Regions from separate parts of the Homo sapiens genome. Here region 2 is linked to region 1. Evidence: fine-mapped expression QTL. A gene starts in region 1. The other region holds a variant in brackets. All regions are shown on one strand. Distances are from middle to middle.

What was found. PIP is the estimated chance that this variant, and not a neighbour inherited with it, causes the effect.
Region 2: its variant is the best candidate, but not a certain one, in a credible set for the expression of FNTA in whole blood (TOPMed, PIP 0.60).

The regions. Positions count from the first base shown.
Region 1 is chr8:43,052,631-43,062,040 of GRCh38, reverse strand. It overlaps FNTA (farnesyltransferase, CAAX box, subunit alpha), which reads right to left and starts at 5,718. Exons shown (of 9, transcript NM_002027.3): 1 at 5,495-5,718; 2 at 2,864-2,949. The coding sequence starts at 5,694. RefSeq lists a silencer at 5,200-5,769 and an enhancer at 5,900-6,089.
Region 2 is chr8:42,818,599-42,828,008 of GRCh38, reverse strand. No RefSeq gene overlaps it. Among named protein-coding and RNA genes, the nearest start is that of THAP1, 20 kb to the left of the region's middle. The variant T/C (reference allele first, on the strand shown) is at 3,708.

The DNA.
Region 1 (9,410 bases):
TTTAATTCAAACATTATAAACAGACCAGGCGCGGTAGCTCACGCTTGTAATCCCAGCACTCTGGGAGGCCGAGGTGGGCGGATCACCTGAGGTCGGGAGTTCGAGACCAGCCTAACCAACATGGAGAAACCCCGTCTCTACTAAAAATGCAAAATTAGCCAGGTGTGGTGTCGCAAGCCTGTAATCCCAGCTACTCGGGCGGCTGAGGCAGGAGAATCACTTGAACCCGGGAGGCGGAGGTCGCGGTGAGCCAAGATCATGCCATTGCACTCCAGCCTGGGCAACAAGAGCGAAACTCCATCTCAAAAAAAAAAAATTATAAACAACATATTGTCATGCTCGAAGATTCTCAAACTTTGACTTTTTTAACTCAACATTGTTTCTGAGATCTGTTCATGTTATAATAGATCTAAATCCTCTTAACGGTTATATAGTATTAACTGTATGACAATGATACATTTTATTTTATCCATTTCTCCAAAAGATAGACATATAGCTTCCAATATCTTGCTTTTTCAAAAAATGCTGCAAATTATAGTAGCTAACATATATAGTGCTTACTATGAGCCAGACAGTATTCTACTATTTTATGTAAATAATTTACTACATCTATAGTTACTACCAAGATCCTCATTTTACACAGGTGGAAACAGAGGCACATAGGAGTTAAATAACTTGTCCAAGATTACACAGTCAGTAAAATGTGAAGTTAGAATTTGAACCAGATGGTCTGGCTCCAAAGTCTGTGCTTTTAACCTCCTGTGCATATCTTCTCATGCCATGTGCCAGAATGAACCCAATATTAAATTAGAAGCAACACACTGCTAGGTTGTAAGATAAGTGCATTTTCCAGTTTTAACAGATATACCAAACTACTTTCCAAAATGGCTAAACATTCGAAAAATCCCATATGAAATGTATGGAGCTCTTCATATATCTTAATACCTAATATAATATCAAGACAGTTTTCATTTCTGCCACTTAAATCATGGGTGGAAAATGGAATTCTCATTTTAACCTGTCATTCTTAATGATAAAGGATTCTTCCTATTTTATTGGCCAATGGGATTTTCTTTTCTGTGAATTGCCAGTTCATACCCTTTGTCCATTTTTTGATTAAACTCTCTGTCTCCTTATCCTGTTGTAAAAACGTCTCAGTTTTAATATGGATCCTGTTTAAATGACATACCTTCTTCCACACTGCTGCTTGCTTTTTAACTTGCTCATGGTTTCTTCTGCTGTGTAAGTTTTAAATTGATATATTTGTCTATAAACGGTTGACAGGTCAAACTTATCTTTTCCTTTAGGGTTTCTAACCATGGTGTATGTAAGAATTCACAAAGTTAATTTTTTTTTTTTTTTTTTGAGACAGAGTTTTGCTCTTGTCGTCCAGACTACAGTGCAATGGCGTGATCGTGGCTCACTGCAACCTCCACCTCTCAGGTTCAAGCAATTCTCCTGCCTCAGCCTCCTGAGTAGCTGGGATTACAGGCGCCTGCCACCACGCCCAGCTAATTTTTGTATTTTTAGTAGAGACAGGGTTTCGCCACGTTGGCCAGGCTAGTCTCAAACTCCTAACCTTAGGTGATCTGCCCACCTCAGCCTCCCAAAGTACTGGGATTACAGGCGTGAGCCACCGCGCCTGGCCCAAAATGTTAATTTTATACCTTGCAAAAAGGTTAATTTATCCTCAATGGAAACATATGATTATATTAGTTTCCCCCAACATCTCTGTTATAAGTACTTATGAATCTGAATAAGTTATGGTTTATATTTCTCTGATCACTAGTAAGGTTAATATCTCTTCATAGATATTTCTATTTTGTGAATTGTCTCTTCATATATACTATCTCTCAAAGTATGAGAGTTTTGCATTTCCGTGCAGTTATATATTCTGACCTTCTCCTTAATCGATTCTGAGGTTTACATCTTGCCTAATACGTTCTCCATCCTAAGAATGATAGGGATACAACTCTGCTTTTATCTAAGTGCACAGCCAACTGTTCCAACCATTATTTGATTAATCCACCCTTTTCATAAAGGTATAAAATGTCCTTTTTATCACATATTAAGCTTTCATAGAGTGAGGATCTATTTCTCGAGTCTTTACAAATCTACTTCTGTGCTACTTCCACTTAATCATTAAGTTTAGTAATATATCTGCACACTTAATACGGCAAACCTATCATTATGCTTTTTTAAACATTTATTGTCATTTTATTAGCAGAAAAAAAATGCTTTTGTAAAAGAATGATCTTAGAAAAGCCTTAACTGAAAGAAATATATATACATAAAATTACAAAACTATCATTCCATTTTATTCATTTTCCCTTTCCTAGAAGAACTAACAATTAACATTTCCACGACCTTCAATTTACACTTTCACATTCATTACAAAAGAATATTTTGTCAAAGAAAAAAATCCACTCATTTTAATATCAATAAATGTATTCCAACTGAGCTGAACACTTCACTGCCAAAATATATGTTTAAATCCTGATGTTTCAGCAACCAAAGTTTATTCTAAAAACAGTAACTCATTTATATTGTGTGGTACATGCATAATCTCCCTGGCGGTGGAGTCTCCAGCAAAGAAAAGAAAACCACAATCACATAGTAGCTATTATCTACTATACTGTAACGTTTATTATTTAGAATATGTCCAGTCTTTGGGCAAAATAAAACTTTTAATCATAAAGCTAAATCACACACACACATAAAAAAAACACAAAATTAACTCATCTTAAGTCATTCAGATTTTTATTAGACAGAAATTTGTCATCTATCTTGCTACATAGTTGTGAATTCCAATTCTGCTACTATATTTAACTTACAGACCTTTTCCTAATATAAACAAACTTACATTTGTCACTATAAATGATCTGGACCACGGGATTGGGGCCATCATTCTGCGGCACCGGATCTATATCAGCCCATTCTGCTCTGTCCCTGAAAACAGACATTCCCCAACCAGTGGTTACATTCAAATACAGAAGAAAAGGGACTCTAGTGTTTTTAAAATGACAATAATTACAGTTACATTGATATTAATAACTTACAGGGCTCATAATGTAATCATGGTTGGATTCTTCATGACCAAGTTTTGCCAATATGTTTTACACATTAAACTATTAAAGTAAAATTAAAACAAATAACCCTCAGATGCTGAAAAGCTAATCAACAGTTTTCAAATTTAAAGTTTTATAAGTAGAAAAATAAGTTTTTGCAGCAAGTAGACAGTACTTTTTTTTATTTTATTTTTTTGAGACGGAATCTCACTCTGTCGCCCAGGCTGGAGTGCAGTGGTGTCATCTCGGCTCACTGCAACCTCTGCCTCCTGGGTTCAACCAATTCTTCTGCCTCAGCCTCCCGAGTAGCTGGGACTAAGGACTACAGGCGGGCGCCACCAAGCCCAGCTAATTTTTGTATTTTTAGTAGAGATGGGGTTTCACCATGTTGGCCAGGATGGTCTCAATCTCTTGACCTGGTGATCCGCCCGCCTCGGCCTCCCAAAGTGCTGGCATTACAGGTGTGAGCCACCGCTCCCTGCCTCACAGTATTTTTAACTTAGAAATCAATCTAACTCATTGGTCTAGTAAGATTCTTTGAGTCAGTCAGCATTTTTAAAACGTTTGAGTAACAAAATACTAGGAATTGACATTTTAAGATAAAAATAAGTACTATTAATTTACTCAAGAGGTGGCGCAGGTGATCATTAATAAGACAGGCTCTGGAATCTGACAACTGCCTAAGTCGTAACATTGGCTGGAGCACTTAATAGCTGTGTGACCTTCAGAAAGTTACTTATTGGGGCCTCAGTTTCACCATTTATAAAATCAGGGCAGTATTATTACCTACCAACCTTAGAAGGGTATTTGGAGGATTAAATGAGATAAGCACTTAAAACATCCACAGCACACAGGCGGCATTCAATGACTACTTAATAAGCAATGCTAAAATAACTGTATAGTGACAACAGTGAGTGCTTACAGAAATTTCTGTGAACTACCTACCCAGTGTAACAAAATTTCTCTTAAACACTTTCACTTATATTCTTTTCCTTTCACTTTTTTTTTTTTTTTTTGAGATGGAGTCACGCTCTTGTCCAGGCTGTGGTGCAATGGGCGCAATCTCCGCTCATTGCAACCTCTGCCTCCTGGGTTAAAGCGATTCTCCTGCCTCAGCCTCCCGAGTAGCTGGAATTACAGGTGCCCGCCACCACGCCCGGCTAATTTTTGTATTTTTAGTAGAGACAGGGTTTCACCATGTTGGCCAGGTTAGTCTGGAACTCCTGACCTCAGGTGATCCGCCCGCCTCGGCCTCCCAAAGTGCTGGGATTACAGGCGTGAGCCACCGCGCCGGCCCTTCCTTTCACTTTTTATTTCTCTATAATGATCAGCTGTTGACAGCAGAGATTCTGTGGCATCCAATGCGCAATGCTAGTAATTGTGTCCATTATACAGGGAGAAATACAAGTGAAATCATGACCTAAGACGTGACACCTAGAGCCTGGGGGAGTGGCCTGGGAAAGGTAAGGCTGTATTTAGTCACCAGGAAATCACCCACAGTCACGTGAGAACCTGAGTATTTCACAATCCAGAGAGCAGACTTGAGGATTATGGGGCTACCAATTTAAATCAGTAAAACACTATCTCCAATCAAAAAAATATATATGGGTAGTGACTTCTACTCATTCACAAAATCAAGGTAAACAAGCCATCGAATGGATTTACCTAGAACTACAGAAGTAAGACCTAAGGCGATTATCTCTGCAGGTTCACAGGGAATTAGGAATCAACATTACCATCTGAAAGCAAAGAACTGATGGAACTGGGTGTCAGCAAAGACGGGGTGACAGAGGCAAGAAAGTTACCGCAGTCCCCAGTACACCTCACTTGTATTATGTACGAGGCGATGCAGGGAGACTTAAGAGAGGTTCAGTAGCAAATCTCTTTTCAGCCTTTAGCCTGGCTGATACGAGGCGCTAAAATACAGATTGGATGAAAATGTCTCTGGGCTCCAAGCAGAGCCAGCCACTGGAAGCCCTCACACTTCGTTTTTAGGGTGAGCAAATCTGGCCCTGGTTTCCTGCCCGGCTACCAGAACTGCACCCTAGCCCTTGGGTCTTCACTGGTTGTTAGCGACACAGCGTTCTGGGAAGCCGTGGAAGAGAGCGGGAAATTTCTTATATTTACGAATCGCGACGCCTGAACAGCTGAACGAGTGCAGTCAAGGGTGCAGCAGTTTCCGCGTGGCTTAAAGCAGGCGGAAAGCCGAGACCTCGCTGCTTCGCGTCCCCGCGGTCTCGCGCCGGCGCCGCCCTGGGAAGCGGCGACGTCCCGGCAGCCGCCCGGGCCCAGCGCCATGCACCGGCCCACGCGGCGCCACGGGAACTTCGGCCTGGCGCGCCGGGGCCGGAAGCGCGCGCCGCGGGTCTTGGGGCCGCTGGGCCTCCAGGGAGTGTCCCGAGCCGCGGCCGCCGCGGGGGCGTTACCTGTACAGGACATAGGAGGGCGAGTCCAGGCTCACAAACCCGTCGTCCATGGGGGACGCCACGGCTTCCCCAGCCTCGGCCGCCATCTCTTCCTTGTGCTGCTGCTGGGGCGGCGGTGGGTGCGGCTGGGGCGGGGGTTGCGCCGGCTGCCCGGGCTCGCCCCCTTGCGCAGCCTCCCCGACCCCCTCGGTGGCCGCCATCTCGCCTCGGTCCGCAGCTGAGGTGGTGGCGGAGGCCCCGCCCCTCCCTTCCCCCTCTCGAGGCCACTTCCTGTTTTCTGGGTTTCCTACCATAGAGGTGCGGGCCAGAGAGTCTTGGCGGGCTGCCGGGGTATGGGTGGGAGTGTGCGGGTGCTGGCTGCGGGTGCTGGCTGCGTCCGCCGCGAGTTTGCGCGGCTCTCCCGAGATCCCCCAGGCTCCCACGCGTCTTCCCATCTGTCGCCGTTCCCGAGCTTTGCCGATGCCATTCGGACCGTGTTAGTGCTGTTAGTGGCCCCAGCAGGGAGAGGGCGATTCCTTCTTTGGACGGAAGCTGCAACTGAGGGTGACTGGGGGACACTGAGCACTCAGCCCTTTGCGTCCATCTCAGCATTTTCAAAACGAAATATAAAGCCCGGGCGCGGTGATTAACGCCTGATCCCAGCCGCTCGGAGGCCGCGGCGGGAGGATCATGTGAGCCAGGGAGGTCGAGACCAGCCTGGGCAATCTAATGCGACCCCATCTCTACCAAAAATACAAAAATTAGCTGGGCATCATGTGGGTGCCTGTGGTTCCAGCTACTCGGAAGGCTGAAGTGGGAGGATCGCTTGAGCTGGGAGTTTGAGGCTGCAGTGAGCAGAAATCACCACTGCACTCCAGTCTGAGGGACAGAGATCCTGTCCCAAAACACACACACCATTAGAAAAAGAAAGTAATATTTGGTGAAGTTTTTGTTTGTATTTATATATGATCGGATATAATGGTGTAAACCAAAAAATAAAATTCTGAACCCAACACCAAACCATCTGAATAGACCCTTCCTCTCTGCCAAGGGCTTTCCAAAGTTAACCTGAAAAACTTGTTCAGGCCATGATGGAAGGAGGTGGGGGTGAGGGTGGGTCATTAACATCAAGGCCGACCTTAAGTCTGATGAGAAACATTTACAATCTATTCTTTCTGAAGCCTGTTACTTGGAGGCTTCATCTGCATAATAAAACTTTGGTCTCCACAACCCCTTATCACAACCTGGACATTCTATTGATAACAACTTAACCAATTGCTAATCAGAACATATTTAAATCGGCCTAGGACCCGGAAGCACCCCTCTCCCTACACTTTGAGTTGTCTTGTCCTTCCAAAGGAACCAATGTGTATCTTACATGTATTTGATTGATGTCTTATGCCTCCCGAAAATGTATAAAACCCCACTGTGCCCCAACCACCCTGGGCACATGTTCTCAGGATCTCTTAAGGGCTGTGTCACAGGCCATTAATCACTCATATTTGGCTCAGAATAAATCTCTTCAAATATTTTCCAGAGTTTGACTCTTTTCATTAACAATGGGTCATATGAATGTATGTTGTTGGGGCTCAGAAAAGAATATCCCAAATGAAGGTCTAAGCATCAGCTTCACAATCACAGTCTCTCTCTGACCTTCTCCTGCCCTCCTCTCTGTGGCCACTCATCCTCTCTGAAGCAAGCCACAGCAACTAGAATCTCTCTTCCCCCTGGCAGGTCATAGAAACCAGAACCCTTTTCCCCCAAAGCCAGCCGTGGCACCTGAAAATACTACTCTAACCTTCCTCCAGCCCTGCCTTTCTATGTGACAGCTGGCTGTAAAGAAACTAAACCCTAGTTCCAGAGGGCTCCTCTTCCACTGGGTGTTGCAGGGAGGAACAGTGAGGCCAAGGAAACCTGAACAGACAGGCCTTGTTGAATTTCTCCACTCCATATATTAGCATTAAATCATCCTCTTTTTGTTCAAATAGGGTATAGTATTAGGGCAGAAATAGCTACATCAAATAATGGGACACAGTAGAGAACTCACAAACAGATCCATGCATATGTGGATGCTTGAGACTAGACAAAGGCTTCATTGCAGAAGATTGAGAAAAGGACGGTGTTCTGAACAATGGTGCTGGGTCAATTGGGCACCCACAGAGGAAAAGAAATTGCATCCCTACGTTATACTACATAGACTTCAATGTGAAAGGCAAAACATAAAAGCTTAAGATTCTGCACAAAACAGAAAACCCAAAATGGCAAATAAATGCATGAAGAGATGATCAATCTCATTAGTAATCAAGAAAATGCAAATTAGAAATATCTTTATATACCATACACATCCACTACGTTGGCAAAAATGGAAAAGCTTAACAATTCCAAGTGGCTTTGGAAAATAGGTTGGCATTATGTAGGAAAGCTAAAGATACACATTGTTATCACCCAGTGCTATAGTTTGGATGTGTTTTGTCCCTACCAAAACTCATTCAGGGTTGAGAGGCAGGGCCTAGTGGGAGCTGTTTGGGTCATTCCTCATGAATAGATGAATGCCCTACCTCAAGGATAAGTGGGTTCTTGCTCTTGCAGAATAGATTAGCTGTCTTCCTTGGTTTCTCTCTCTTGCTTCCCCTCTTGCTATGTGATCTCCTTGCACATACTACTCCCCTTCCACTTTCCCCCCATGAGTTGAAGCAGCCTGAGGCCCTCACTAGATAAAGCTACCCAGTCTTGAACCTTTTGGCCTCCAGAATCATTAGTCAAATAAACCTCTTTTCTTTATAAATTACCAGCCTCAGGTATTCTATTATGGTAACACAAAACGACTAAGACACCCAGTAATGCTAAGATACATATATATATATATATATATATATATTTTTTTTTTTTTTTTTTTTTTTGAGACAGAGTCTCACACTGTTCCCCGGGCTGGAGTGCAATGGCATGGTCTCGGCTCACTGCAACCTCTGCTTCCCAGGTTCACGCGATTCTTCTGCCTCAGCCCTCAGCCTCCCGAGTAGCTGGGATTACAGGCACACACCACCACACCTGGTTAATTTTTTGTATTTTTAGTAGAGATGGGGTTTCACTATGTTGGCCAGACTGGTCTCGAACTCCTGACCTCATGATCCAGCTGCCTCGGCCTCCCAAAGTGCTGGGATTACAGACGTGAGCGACCGTGCCTGGCCAGATGTATATATATATATATATATATATTTTTTTTTTTTAAATGATGCACTCACATGCATCAGAACACAGAACAACAGTACTGGAAACACATTGTAATAGCCACAGACCAGAAACAACCAACATGCTCATCAAGAGTACAATGTGGTATAGTCATATAATGGAATACTATGCAAAAATGAAACATATGAACTAAAGGTCATACACTAATAAGTGTGGTTAAAAGAAAATCATGGCTGGGCACAGTGGCTCACATCTGTAATTACAGCACTTTAGGAGGACAAAGCAGGAGGATCACATGAGGCCAGGAGTTTGAGACTAGCCTGGGCAACATAGCCAGACCCCAACTCTAAAAAAATACAAAAATTAGTTGGACGTGGTGACATGTGCCTGTAATCCCAGGTACTCAGGAAGCTGAGGTGGGAGGATCACTTGAGCTCAGGAAGTCAAGGCTACAATGAGCCATGATCACACCACTGCACTCCAGCCTGGGCAACAGAGTGAGAGCCTGTCTCAAAAAAATATAAAAAAAGAAAAAGACGGCCAGGTGCGGTGGCTCACACCTGTAATCCCAGCACTCTGGGAGGCCAAGGCAGGCGGATCACCTGAGGTCAGGAGTTTGAGACCAGCCTGGCCAACATGGTGACACCCCGTGTCTACTAAAAATGCAAAAATTAGCTGGGCATGGTGGCAGGCACCTGTAATCCCAGCTTCTTGGGAGGCTGAGGTAGGAGAACTGCTTGAACCCAGG
Region 2 (9,410 bases), 230 kb after region 1:
AAGACATTTATAAAACAAATAGCAAAATGACAGAAGTAGGTCCCTCCTCATCAATAATTACTTTAAATATATTGTATTGAACTTTCTAATCAAGAGACAGAGATTAGAAGAATGGATTTTTTTTAAAAAAAGAACAAGACCCGGCTGGGCCCGGTGGCTCATGCCTGTAATCCCAGCACTTTGGGAGGCTGAGGCGGATAGATCACCTGAGGTCAGGAGTTTCAGACTAGCCTGGCCAACATGGTGAAACCCATCTCTACTAAAAATACAAAAATTAGCCGGGCATGGCGGCAGTCGCCTGTAACCCCAGCTACTAGGGAGGCTGAGGCAGGAGAATTGCTTGAACCCGGGAGGTGGAAGTTGCAGTGAGCCAAGATTGTTCTATTGCACTCCAGCCTGGGCAACAAGAGTAAAACTCCGTCTCAAAAATAAAAACAAGACCCAAGACCCAACTACATGCTACCTGTAGGAGACTCATGTTAGGTCCAAAGACACAAACAGGTTAAAAGTGAAAGGATGGAAAAAGATATTTCATGCAAATAGTAATCAAGATGAGCTGGGGTGGCTGTATTAACAGAAGATAAAATAGACTTTAAATAAAAAAGTTACAAGAGACAAAGCAGGTATTATATATTAATTAAAAAGTTTAATACACCAAAAGACATAGCAATCGTAAACATTTTTGCACCTAATAACAGACCACCAAAGTATATGATACAAAAATTGGCAGAATTAAAAGGAGAAACAGACTGATCTACAAAAATGAAGATTAAGTAGAAACATTCTCAGAAAAAGAAAAATAGAATCTGTTGTTAGCCAACCCACCTTAAAATAAATACTAGAGGAAGCTCTTCAGGCTGAAAGCAAGTGACACCTAACAGTAATTCAAAAAAGCAAAGATTGCCAGTAAAGATAATTATGTAGGCTGGGCAGGGTGGCTCACGCCTGTAATCCCACCACTTTGGGAGGCCGAGGCGGGCGGATCATGAGGTCAGAAGATCGAGACCATCCTGGCTAACACGGTGAAACCCCGTCTCTACTAAAAATACAAAAAAATTAGCCGGGCGTGGTGGCGGGCGCCTATAGTCCCAGCTACTCGGGAGGCTGAGGCAGAAGAATGGCGTGAACCCGGGAGGCGGAGCTTGCAGTGAGCGGAGATTGCACCACTGCACTCCAGCCTGGGCGACAGAGCGAGACTCTGTCTCAAAAAAAAAAAAAAAAAAAGATAATTATGTAAATAATTATGAAAGACACATAGCTGCATCTTTTTTCTTATTTAAAAGCAACTGCAAAAACTGTATATATAATTTTAGTGTTAGGCCTGTAACATAGAGAAATGTAATATGTTTGATAGTAAGAAGCAGATGAGAAGCAAGCTGTACTGAAATAAAGAAAGAACACCAGATGAGAACTTAAATCTATAGGAAGAAATGTGGAGAAACAAATAATAAATCAAAAATTAATTAAACTATAAATACATACTTGTGGCCCGGTGTGGTGGCTCACGCCCGTGATCCCAGCACTTTGGGAGGCCAAGGCGGGTGGATCACAAGGTCAGGAGTTTTGAGACCAGCCTGGCCAACATGGTGTAACCCCGTCTCTACTAAAATACAAAAAGTCAGCCGGGCGTGGTGGTGGGCGCCTGCAGTCCCAGCTACTCTGGAGGCTGAGGCAGGGGAATCACTTGAACCCAGGAGGCGGAGGTTGCAGTGAGTCAAGATTGCGTCACTGCACTCCAGCCTTGGTGACAGGACTAGACTCCGTCTCAAAAAAAAAAATTAAAAAATAAATACATACATACTTGCTCACCCTTTTTTTGAGCTTCCTCAGAAGACATAAAATTATTACAATAATTATAAAAATGCATTATTGGTTTGTAACATGTAGATGTAACATGTATATTAATAATAGTACAAAATGGGAGAAGAGGTAGTGGAACTATATACAGCAAAATATCACACTGGTAAGTTGAAGTAGATTATAATAAGATATATATGGTAAGCCCTATAGCAACCACTTAGAAAATAAGTCCAAAGTGTAGTGAAGAAAATCATTAAAATAATTAAAATATTAAACTAGAAATGTTTACTTAATGTAAAAGAAAGCAGTGAAGGAAGACTAGAGAAATAAGACATGAGACTAAAAGGCAAAATGGCAGATGTAAATCCAGCTATACCAATAATAGCATCTAATGTGAACTGATCTAATCAAAGGGCAGAGACTGTCAGACTGGATATTGAAAAACGAGCTCCAATTATATGCTGTCTGCAGGAGACACACTTTAGCCTTATGATAAAAATAGGTTGAAAGCTAAAGGATGGAAATGACATACTATGCAAACAACAACTAAAACAGATGTGAAGTGGGTATGGCAATATCAGGCAAAATAGGCTTTTAAAAATGTTATTAGAGGCCGAGCACAGTGGCTCACGCCTGTAATCCCAGCACTTTAGGAGGCCGAGGTGGGTGGATCACTTGAGGTCAGGAGTTCAAGGCCAGCCTGGCCAACATGGTGAAACCCTGTCTCTACTAAAAATACAAAAATTAGCTGGGCATGATGGTACGTGCCTGTAGTTCCAGCTACTTGGGAGGCTGAGGCAGAAGAAATGCTTGAACCCGGGAGGCAGAGGTTGCAGTGAGACGAGATCATGCCACTGCACTCCAGCCTGGGCAACAGAGTGAGATTTTGTCTCCAAAAAAAAAAAAAAGAGTAAACAAGCAAGAAACGTGGAAGAGCATGTTTTCTCATACAGGTAGTTCTAAATTTTGAGACTCCGCCTTAAAACAAAACCAAATAAAATAAATAAATAAATGTTATTCGATATAAAGGGAATTTTGTAATGTTACCAGAGTCAATCTATCAGGAAGATATAAGAATTATAAGCACATATGCAACTAACAATAGAGCCCTGAAATACATGAAGCAAAAGCTCACAGAAATGAAGGGAGAATTCAACAAAAATTGAACAACAGCTGAAGACATCAGTACTCCACCTTCAATATTAGATATAACAACTAAGCAGGAGATCAATAATGATAGAGAAAACTTTAACTGTGCTATAAACAAAATGGATCTAGCCAACTTCTATAGAATATTGCACCCAACCATAGAGAATATATATATTTTTCAAGTCACATGGAGCATTCTCCAGGATAGACCACATACTGGGTCATAAAACAAATCTCAGTAAGTTTGTTTTTTTTTTGAGACAGAGTCTTGCTCTGTCGCCCAGGCTGGAGTGCAGTGGCTCAATCTCAGCTCACTGCAAGCTCCACCTCCTGGGTTCACGCCATTCTCCTGCCTCAGCCTCCCAAGTAGCTGGGACTACAGGTGCCCACCACAACGCCCGGCTAATTTTTTATATTTTTAGTAGAGACAGGGTTTCACCGTGTTAGCCAGGATGGTCTGGATCTCCTGACCTCATGATCCGCCCATCTCAGCCTCCGAAAGTGCTGGGATTACAGGCGTGAGCCATCGCTCCCGGCAAATCTCACTAAGTTTTAAAGTATTAAATCATATAATTCAGGGGTCCCCAACCCCAGGGCCACAGATGGATACCAGTCTGTGGCCTGTTAGGAACCAAGCCACACAGCAGGAGGTGAGTGGTGAAGCGAGCAAGCATTACTCCCTGAGATCCACCTCCTGTTAGATCAGTGGGGACATTAGATTCTCATAGAGGCATGAACCCTGTTGTGAACTGTGCATG[T/C]GACGGATTTAGGGTCCATGCTTTTTATGAGAATCTACCTAATGCCTGATGATCTGAGGTGGAACAGTTTCATCCCGAAACCATCCCCCACTCCCAGTCCATGGAGAAATTGTCTTCCAAGAAACTGGTCCATGGTGCCAAAAGGTTAGGGGCTGCTGACATAATGTATATTCTCTGACCACAATGGAATAAAATGAGAAATCAATAACGATAAATTAGATAAACTCACAAGAAAGTGGAAATTTTAAAACACGTTTAAACAACCAATGGGTCAAAGAAGAAGTCACAAGAGAAATAAGAAAATACTTTGCCATAGATAAAAATGAAGACACAAAATACTAAAACTTCTGGTATGCAGCTAAAGCAGTGCTTTGAGGGAAATTTGTAGCTGTAAACACCTATATTTTTAAAAAGAAGAAAGATCTCAATAACCTTAAGACACAGAAAAAAGAAGAACAAACTCCTTTTAAGGTGAAGGATGAAGTTGTTGCTTCTGATCCTTCCTACAACCAAGAATGAGGCACAATGCCTAGTTGGCCTATTTAGATTTTTGGAGGCAACATATTCCTCATTTGGGTGTGTTATGTTGGGTCATTCACGAGTGATCCAAAAATCTGCTAGTTTTGAGTAGTATCCAGAATAGGAGAAAGCTCTGCAACAGGTCCTGGCTGTTGTGCCAGCTTTGCCACTTGGGCCATATGATCCAGTGGATCTAATGGTGCGTGTGGTGTCTGTGCCATATAGGGATGCCGTCTGGAGACTTTGGCAGGACCCCATAGGTGAATCACAGTGCAGGCCTTTAAGACTTTGGAGCAGGGCCCTGCCATCATCCACAGATAAATACTCTCGTTTTGAGAGACAGCTCTTGACCTGCTAATGGGCTTTAGTAGAAACTGAATGTTTGACCATAGGCCGCCAAGTTACCATGCAACCTGAGCTGCCTATTATAAACTGGATGTCATCTGACCCACTAAACCATAAAGTTGGGCATGCATAGAAGAACTTCATTATCAAATGGAAGTAGTATAAACATGATTGGGCCCAAGCACGTCCTAAAGGCACAAGTAAGTTATATGAAGAAGTGACCCCAATGGTTCCTATTTCCAGTTCCTATTTCTGCTACACTGCCTTCTCTCTCCCAGCCTGGGCATTTGGCCTCAAGGGAAGTACCCTATGATCTTTTGACAAAGGAAGGAGAAGACGTGCACCCGGTTTATGGTTCTGTGTGATATTCAAGTACTAGCTCCCAAGTAATTGGGATTACAGGCACCCACCACGACGCCCGGCTAATTTTTGTATTTTTAGTAGAGAAGGGATTTCACCATGTTGGCCAGGCTAGTCTCAAACTCCTGACCTCAGGAGATCTGCCCACCATGGCCTCCCAAAATGCTGGGATTACAGGCATGAGCCACTGTGTCTGGCCCATAAACTTTCTTAAAACTTTTTTTTAAAGCTTATCAGCTATCATTAGTGTTAGTGTATTTTATTTGTGGCCCAATACAATTCTTCTTCCAATGTGCCCCAGGGAAGCCAAAAGATTGGACACCTTGTGCTAGATATATATGGTGAAGAAAACCATGCTTATCATATATGGCAGCATTCTTTATAAAAGCAAACAATCTGGAAAACCAGGGCTTAACTAGGGTTTCAGACTCTTAAGAATAAGAAATGGTTACACATTTCTAATATGCCGAATTCCAGCTTTCCCTGAGGAAGTATTTTAAATACTAGAAGCAATTTGGAAATGACTTTGTGAACTTATTTGCACAAATTTCAGGACATGTGGAAAGTTTACAAATATTTGTGCAAAGTTGAGTAACATTTAAGAGCCTGATCTCCAAACACTCACCATTTCTTGGTGTCATTTTCTACCAAAACTTCTGTTGGGGCCCTTTCATCTAAAAGCTGCTCTGCTGGCAGATGAATTATGCATCTGGGGACAGAGAACTGGATTTTCTGTTCTGTACTAACTCCTCAGGGAAGTTTTCCAAGGTTGAGCTGCAAGCTGTACACCCTTGAACTTGCTTCTAATTCTTTGCAGAATAGGCTCACAGCTATGAAAAAACATGAGTTTAGTTCATTCATAAATGGACACACACAAAACCTGGGGCAAAGAATTGCCCTTCCCCATCTTCAATGCACTGAAAACTTAGTCTACATTTTTAGATCATGTCTAGAAAATGTCAATGTCAAAAAAAATTCCTCATTCACAAAGATGTTCTAGAGGCTAAAACACATGGATGACAAATTCAAATTTTAATATATACATCATCTTTTTTTTTTTTTTTTTGAGATGGAGTCTCGCTCTGTCGCCCAGGCTGGAGTGCGGTGGCGCGATCTCAGCTCACTGCAAGTTCCACCTCCCGGGTTCATGCCATTCTCCTGCCTCAGCTTCCTGAGTAGCTGGGACTACAGGCACCTGACACCATAGCAGGCTAATTTTTTGTATTTTAAGTAGAGACAGGGTTTCACCATGTTAGCCAGGATGCTCTCGATCTCCTGACCTCGTGATCCGCCCGCCTCGGCCTCCCAAAGTGCTGGGATTACAGGTGTGATCCACCGTGCCTGGCCTACATCATCTTTTTTTTTTTTTTGCTACTCCCCACCCTGTCACCTGCTTCTCCCCACTGTCTTCCCATCCTCTTCTCCCCACCATCTCCTTTTCATTCTTCTCCCCAAGGCTGTCTTTCCAGCCCCTCTGCATGCCCCTTTTCCCCACCCTCTCTCTCCACTATTTTCTCCCAGCCCCTTCTCCCCCAACAACCTGGTTTTTTGTTTTGTTTTGTTTTCCTGAAACAGAGTCTCACTCTGTCGCCCAGGCTGGAGTGCAATGGCATGATCTCAGCTCACTGCAACCTCTGCCTCCCGGGTTCAGGCGATTCTCCTGCCTCAGCCTCCCGAGTAGCTGGGATTACAGGCATGCACCACCATGCCTGGCTAAATTTTTTTGTATTTTTACTAGAGACAGGGTTTCACTATATTGTCCAGGCTGATCTCAAACTCCTGAGCTCAGAAAATCCACCCGCCTCGGCCTCCCAAACTGCTAGGATTACAGGCATGAGCCACTGCACCCGACCGTTTTTTTTTAAAGCTATTATTACTCTTTCTTTGTTTCTTTGGTTTTTTTTTTTTGAGACGGAATTTCAGTCTTGTTGCCCAGGCTGGAGTGCAATGGTGCAATCTCAGCTCACTGCAACCTCCACCTCCTGGGTTCAAGCGATTCTCCTGCCTCAGCCTCCCGAGTAGGTGGGACTACAGCCGTACACTACCATGCCCAGCTAATTTTTGTATTTTTAGTAGAGATGGTGTTTTGCCATGTTGGCCAGGCTGGTCTCAAACTTCTGACCTCAGTTGATCTACCCACCTCGGCCTCTCAAAGTGCTGGGATTACAGGCGTGAGCCACTGCACCTGGCCTCTTTTTTTTCTTAAATACAGTTTTCCTTCCATTTAAAAATACAAGTACAAATTTTTACCTATTAAACTTCATGTTTCAGCTTCTTAATTAAAACATGTTAGTCTGAAACAAGCTGATTAACAAATGGGCAAAGGACTTGAGTAGACATTTCTTCAAAGAGGATAAACAAATGGCCAATAAGCAAATGAAAAGATGCTCAATATCACTAATCATAAGGGAAACACAAACCAAAACCACAATGAAACACCACCTCTCACCCATTAGGATGCCTGCTATCAAAAAATAGAAAATAATACATGTTGGCAAGGATGTAGAGAAATTGGAGCCCCCGTGCACTGCTGTAGAAAACAATAGGGCAGTGCCTCAGAACATTAAACACAGAATTACCCTTTGATAGAATCCAGCAAGTTCCCTTCTGAGTACAGAAAAGAATAAAAAACAGACTCGGCCAGGCGCAGTGGCTCAGGCCTGTAATCCCAACACTTTGGGAGGCAGAAGTGGGTGGATCACCTGAGGTCAGGAGTTTGAGACCAGCCTGACTAACATGGCGAAACCCCATCTCTACTAAAAAAAAAAAATTACAAAATTAGCCAGGTGTGGTGGTGCGTGCCAGTAATCCCAGCTACTAGGGAGGCTGAGGTAGGAGAATTGCTTGAACCAGGGAGGCAGAGGTTGCAGTGAGCTGAGATTGAGCCATTGCACTACAGCCTGGGCAACAAGAGTGAAACTCTGTCTTAAAAACAAACAAAAACAAACAAACAAAAAAGACTGAGACTCAAAGATATATTTATACACCCATGTTCATAGCAGCAGTATTCACAATAATCAAAAGGCAGAAGCAACCCAAGTGTTCATCAACAGATGAATGGATTATTCAGCCTTAAAAAGAAGGAAATTCTGACAAATGCTGCAACACAGACGAACCTTGAGAACGTTACGCTAAGTGAAATAAACCAGCCTCAAAAAGAAAAGCTGAGGGCAGGCAGAGCGCGGTGGCTTATGCCTGTAATCCCAGCCCTTTGGGAGGCCAAAGCGGGCGGATCAGGAGGCAAGGAGATCAAGACCATCCTGGCTAACATGGTGAAACCCTGTCTCTACTAAAAATACAAAAAAGCCGGGCGCGGTGGCGGGGGCCTGTGGTCCCAGCTACTGGGGAGGCTGGCAGGACAATGGCGCGAACCTGGGAGGCGGAGCTTGCAGTGAGCCGAGATCAGCCACTGCACTCCAGCCTGGGGGACAGAGCGAGACTCTGTCTCCAAAAAAAAAAAAAAAAAAAAGAAAGAAAGAAAAGCTGAAGGCAGACTTTGGCCCTTTATAAGGAGAAATATTTAAATAATTAGACTTGTCCAAGAGTGTCATGGATCGCGTTGTGAAGTAATGAGTTTGCCATCCCTGGGCATAATAAAGAAAATCTTACATGATCATTGGTTTGCGACATTGTGGAAGGAATTCCTGGCTTGAGAGGAAAGCTGTTTATGCTAAAACAAGGTGGTGGGTAAGCGGGGGAGGGGGGAGCGGGGGCGGGGCTTGTCTTGAAAGAATCAGTCACTTTATATATATATATAATCAAAATAAATATTTTATATATATAATAAAAATAAATTATATAGTTTCAAATAAACAGAAGGAGGGTATTGAAACTTCCCAATACAAAGATGTGATAAAGGTTTGAGATGAAGGATATGCTAATTACCCTGATCTGATCACTAAAGATTCTGTGTACCAAAACATCACCAGCCAGGCGCGGTGGCTCATGCCTGTAATCCCAGCACTATGGGAGGCTGAGGCAGGTGGATCACGAGGTCAGGAGATCGAGGCCATCCTGGCTAACACAGTGAAACCTGTCTCCACTAAAAATATAAAAAAATCTTTGCCGGGCATGGTGGCACATGCCTGTAGTGCCAGCTACTCAGGAGGCTGAGGCAGGAGAATTGCTTGAACCCGGGAGGCGGAGGTTGCAGTGAACCAAGTTTGCGCCACTGCACCCCAGCCTGAGCAACAGAGTGAGACTCTGTCTCAAAAAAAAATTAATTAAAGATAAATAAAGGTATGACTAAATAAAACAAAATACAGCAAAATAAAATAAAACAAAACAAGGCTGGGTGAGGTGGCTCAGGCCTGTGGTCCCAGCTACTTGGGAGGCTGAGGTGGAAGGATCACCTGAGCCCGGGAGGTCAAGACTGCAGCGAGCTATGATGGTGCCACTGCACTCCAGCCTGGGTGACAGAGTAAGACCCCGTCTCAAAAAATAAAATAAAATAAAATAAAATAAAAGAGAGAACAAAAC